2 separate regions of the Homo sapiens genome follow, and region 2 is linked to region 1. Evidence: fine-mapped expression QTL. Tissue or cell type: sun-exposed skin. Region 1 holds a variant in brackets; the other region holds the start of a gene. All regions are shown on one strand. Distances are from middle to middle.

The links. PIP is the estimated chance that this variant, and not a neighbour inherited with it, causes the effect.
Region 2: it holds the start of KCNJ11, and the variant in region 1 is fine-mapped to the expression of KCNJ11 in sun-exposed skin (GTEx, PIP 0.99).

Annotation. Positions count from the first base shown.
Region 1 is chr11:17,496,726-17,499,448 of GRCh38, forward strand. USH1C (USH1 protein network component harmonin) reads right to left here. Exons shown (of 27, transcript NM_153676.4): 24 at 1,437-1,546; 25 at 33-88. Among named protein-coding and RNA genes, the nearest start is that of ABCC8, 21 kb to the left of the region's middle. The variant C/G (reference allele first, on the strand shown) is at 1,470.
Region 2 is chr11:17,387,473-17,390,085 of GRCh38, forward strand. It overlaps KCNJ11 (potassium inwardly rectifying channel subfamily J member 11), which reads right to left and starts at 1,187. Exons shown (of 1, transcript NM_000525.4): 1 at 1-1,187. The coding sequence starts at 619. RefSeq lists an enhancer at 1-369 and silencers at 1,578-2,087, 2,168-2,267.

The DNA.
Region 1 (2,723 bases):
AGGTCTCAGGCTAGGTGCTTGCACACACTTACAGCTCATCGTCATACTCCTTTGGGGGGCAGACGGCAACCACAAGGTCGATCCAGTCCTGTGGGGAGAAGCCGTGTGACTCTGGGGCACACTCAGTTGGATGGTGCATCTGCCCCGGCACTCCATCCCCATTTCTGGGCCCCATGGCCTAGGATCAGCCAGGCTGCACCTTCTTCCCACGGGCCCACCTGGGGCCCACTGTGACTTCCATGGTCTGAGGACGTTTCTAGTCTCTGAGGCTTCGGGACCATAGAGGACAGGGCTGCAAGGCCCTTGAATGACACTCAGCTCCCAAATGTCAATCTATGGACCGGGGACAGGCAGCAACCTCAGAATCACTTGGGGGAACTTCTTAAAAGTGTAGGCTCGTAGACTTGGCCCCCAGAAGTCAAGGGTGAGTCCTGGGAAATAGTACTTTTAACAACCTCTCTGGGTAATTCCGACGCACTTTCTGATGCACAATCAAGTGGGGGACTTCTGGCCCAGCTTTTTGATCCTAACACCTGAATCCCTTTTACTGCCATCCTTGACTTGCCCCTCATTCTCCCTCCTTGGCTTAGGTGTATCCCCTGAAAAGTATTGGAAATATCACTGGGCCCCTCTACCATGAGCTGGTTCCTAATATTGAGCTGAAATCTCTCTCTCTTTCCCCAGGACTTCCCTCCATCCAATCCAGGTCTTCCCTCAAGAATCAGAGAGAACACTTCTGCTCCCTCTGCCCTAATGCAGACCTTCAGATAATCAAAGATAGTCATCATGTTACCCGTGAGTCTTCTCTTCTCCACATCCCTTCATGTGGGTCCCAGGCCCATCTGGTCAGCTTCCTCGGCACTGAACTTAATACCTCAGGCTCGGCTGCCTGCATACAGTTGCACAGGTTGTGCATTGCACACCATGAGCAGGCACCATTCACACTACAGTCTGTAAAAGGGCACCCCCTCAGATTATGTAGTGCACAGCCTGGGCAATCTTATGCAGTGGCCGTGATCCAGGTGGGTGTCTAATGAGTGCAGAGCAGATTCCCACCAGCCCCTCCTTCATCCTGGGTTCTCTGCTTTTGTTAATGCTTTCTGGTAGCCCCCAGAATTCTCTTGATTCTTGTTCAGTGTGCACTTAGAAAAGACCTTAAGTCTTTTTCTTGGGTGACCTGCCATGCCCTGGCTTCAAGAGTCTGTTTAAGCCACTGGCTTTTTGGATCCAAGGTCAGGAATTGACATCTATTTTTCTGAATCCCATCTTGTCAGATTTAAACCACAGGCTGGATGGGGTATGGTGTCACCAAAGTGTTGCCTGGACTCCAGATGCCCACCCTGGAATGAGGCATCCTATTGTGAGACCTGGCTGCAGAGGCCAGGGTTTGAGGCAGGCAGGTGAGGGAGGAAAGGAGGGAGGGGCCTTATTCTTACCCCGCCCTGATTCCAGGCCTTCTGCAGGGCAGC[C/G]TCAGCCTCAGCCAGGGTGTAGTCTGTCACAATCTTGCCGTTGATTGCCATGATCTCGTCCCCTTTCACAATGCCACCTGCAGGCAGATGAGGCTGATTGGCCAACTGGGCTGTATGTGACACGTGCCTGGCCCAGGGCTTGGCAAAGGGGGGTCATTGCCAGACAGCAGAAGAGACCTGAGCCTGGGTTCTGAAAGCTCATGTGGACTCAGAAAGCATGAGGGGAAACTAGCCACCTGGTTAGTGGCTAGTCAAAGGGCATTTAGTCCCTGTCCCTTCCACACCCCCTCACCCCAGCTCAGGAGAACCTGGATATCATTGATGATGAGCCTCTGTTATTACAGAGGGACACAGACCTGCATTTCCAGCACAGTATGAGGCCTGAGTCAATTCTGCCAGCCGGCCCTCCCTGTTGCCAGTCATGCTGGTCTGTTCAGGTCCCTGAGCTGCCATGCTCTCTCCTGCCTCAGAGGCTTCATGTCGCTGTTCCCTACCTTGCTTTCTCTTCTTCTAGGTCTGAGAGGAAATGTCAGAAGGGGCTTCTCTGACCCCCGCTCAGTCGAATGTAGATCTTGCCTATTCTCTCACAGCATCCCAATCTTTTCTTATTTGGCATTTTCCACAATTCGTAATCATTAATCTGTTTGTTTACTGATGGTCTCTCCCACCACACTGTCAGCTCCACGTGGGCAGGGATTGTCTTTTTGGTTCACCATAATATCCCCAGCACTTAACATAATGCCTGACACAAAATAGGACCTCAGTAGATATTTGTTGAATAAATGAAGCTGTAATAAGGTGCTCCTGAAAGAGTTGCCTGGGATCTAATAATTTTGGGGAAAGCTGAGTTATAAGCTGAACAGAGCTACTCACTGCAGGATTTGTCAGTCTTGAATGTGCTAACATGCACTGCAGCTTTCCAAGAGGTAGACAGATTGTGCGTGGTTTTCCACACCTCTTTGACATCAGAGCCCTTTTTGGAGGAATTTCTCCCAGTCCTGATGTCCACAGAACACTCTCCAGGTTACATTGAAATAGATCACCCAGGAGCCTTGTGGCATGAAGGCCCATAGGAATGTGGTGTATGATACTGACAATGGTGGCCATGGTGGCTTAAAACACACGTGCTCCTAGGGAAGCTTCATCAGTGACTAGTTATGTTCAAAGCAGTGCAGGACCAAACCACAGAAAGCAGTTGCCTCTGTGCAGTGCAACTGGGGATGGGTGACTTTCACCTTTTCATTTTGTACAAAT
Region 2 (2,613 bases), 110 kb before region 1:
TGCGGAGGTCACCCACACGTAGCATGAAGCAGAGGCGGCCGTGGCGCAGGGCGATCACCGCATGCTTGCTGAAGATGAGGGTCTCAGCCCTGCGGTGGGCTTGGGCAGTCTTCATGAAGATGCAGCCAAGCATGATGGCGTTGATCATGAGCCCCACGATGTTCTGCACGATGAGGATCAGGATGGCCAGTGGGCACTCCTCAGTCACCATGCGCCCCCCAAAGCCAATAGTCACTTGGACCTCAATGGAGAAAAGGAAGGCAGACGAGAAGGAGTGGATGCTGGTGACACAGGGCTCAGCAGTGCCCTCGCTGGGGGCCAGGTCACCGTGGGCGAAGGCGATGAGCCACCAGGCCATGGCGAAGAGCAGCCAGCTGCACAGGAAGGACATGGTGAAGATGAGCAATGTGTGTGGCCACTTGAGGTCCACCAGCGTGGTGAACACGTCCTGCAGGAAGCGGCCCTGCTCCCGGATGTTCTTGTGGGCCACGTTGCAGTTGCCTTTCTTGGACACAAAGCGGGCCCTCCGCTGGCGGGCACGGTACCTGGGCTTGGCAGGGTCCTCTGCCAGGCGTGTCAGCACGTATTCCTCGGGGATGATGCCCTTGCGGGACAGCATGGCTCCGGTGACCCCCAGGGAGGGGCTTCCCCCATCGGAGGCACCCCTCGGACGTGGCCTAGGGCCTCACTGCAGAGTCCTCTCGGTGGGCACCTTCTCACCCTGGGGCTGCACTCAGCCTGTGCTGGCCTCACTTCTGAGATAACTCCCCACCAGACTCTTCCTTACCTCCACCTGGGTCCCACTTCACTTCTTAATACCAGCCTCAGGCCGGGCGCGGTGGCTCACGCCTGTAATCCCAGTACGTTGGGAGGCTGAGGAGGGCAGATCACTAGGTCAGGAGTTCGAGACCAGCCTGACCAACATGGTGAAACCCCATCTCTACTAAAAATACAAAAGTTAGCCGGGCATGGTGGTGCGCACCTGTAATCCCAGCTACTCAGGAAGCTGAGGCAGGAGAATCGCTTGAACCCGAGAGGCGGAGGTTGCAGTGAGCCAAGATCACGCCACTGCACTCCAGCCTGGGCGACAGAGCGAGACTCCGTCTCAAAAACAAAAAACAAAACAAAAAAAACAGCCTCACCCTTGAGCCCACCTGCCTGGCGCCTAGGGAGCCCCCAACCCTGCCGGCTCTCCACCTGGCCCTGCGTCCTCCCCCAGCTTCCCCCACCAGCTGACCACCCCTGGGCCTCCCGCTAAGAGCCCTTCTCCCCGCCCAGCCTGCCTTCCCAGCCCAGCTCAGAACTTAACACCTCCGGATCTCTCCCACTAACCGGACCTCACCCCCACCTCCGGGTCTCCCGCCTCACCTGTCTGGCCTTCGGGCTCCCAGGCTCCAGCTCAGGTCCTGGCCACCCCCGCCCCGTCTCTCCTCCAGGTGCGCCCCCTATGTCCTACTCCACCCCTCCCGGAGCGCCCCCGCCGCTTTCCGGATCCCCCTCCAGCTCTCGTCCTCTCTGTCTCCTTGGGATCCTGCGTTCTCTGGAGTCACCACCCCACCCGGCTCAACCGCGGCTCCCCGGACCTGCGCGCGACCCGGCGGGGCTGACTCCGAGTCGCGGCCTCCCGGTCCCTGCCGCCCGCCCGCGCCGCGGCTCCCGCTCCGCGCCGGGTCCCGGCCCCGCCCGCCGCCGCCGCTGCACCTGCTCCTGCTCCTCACGCCACGGCCGTCGCCTCCCCGCCCCCTCCCGCCGCCCGGGCGCTCGCGGCTGGCCGTCCTCCCGTCTGTCTGTCCGTCCGTGGGTCCGCGGAGACCGACCTGGGCTAGGCAGGGGTCTAGGACGGCGGGAGGGGGGCGCACGAGGAGAGGAACGGGGCCGGGGACCGCCAGGGGGAGCCCGACCTGCACCGGAGCGCAGGGGGCGGGGCCGGAGCAAGCCCCCGCCCCTCCCGCGCCCCTCCCCGCCCCCGCCCTCCACCTCCCCTCCCGGGACTCACAACCCGGCCTTTGGAGTTTTTCTGATCCGCGGAACCCAGAGGTTCCTCCTGCCCACGCTCTACGAAAGTGGGGGGCTGGGAGGGATCTGTGACCCGCCCTCCCAGTCTGGGGCCGCCGCCCTGTCGCCCTGGCTCCCCTCCCCCAATATCCCCATCCGTATTTGGGTCAGTAATCCGCCTCTCGGCCGCGCCAGGTTTGCAGGTTCCCCGGGAAAGGAGGCGCTGAGAGGCGGCGCCACCAATCCCAGGGCTGGCGGAAATTAGGCGGTCCGAGGACTTCTCAACCTGCAGCTGCTTCTCTTTGGGGGATGCTCTTAATCTTAGTCTTGAATCCTTTGACAATCTGATGGAAGCTCAGACTCCCTCTCATTAAAAAAAAAAAAAAAAAAAAAAAAAAAAAAGGCCTCGGCAGGAAAGGAGCACAGTTTAACACCTGCTACTGCTGTGGGGCAGCCTGGGCGGCTCCATCTTCTCAGCCATTCCGGCCCTACTTTAAAGAAGGTTTGAGCCGAGGCCACTTGCTTTACACTTTCTCACACCTGTCACCTGACTTCTTCCACGTTAGGTCATGGGTGGTATTTAGGCCTGAACAGTGTGTTAGGGCTGCCTCGGGCACT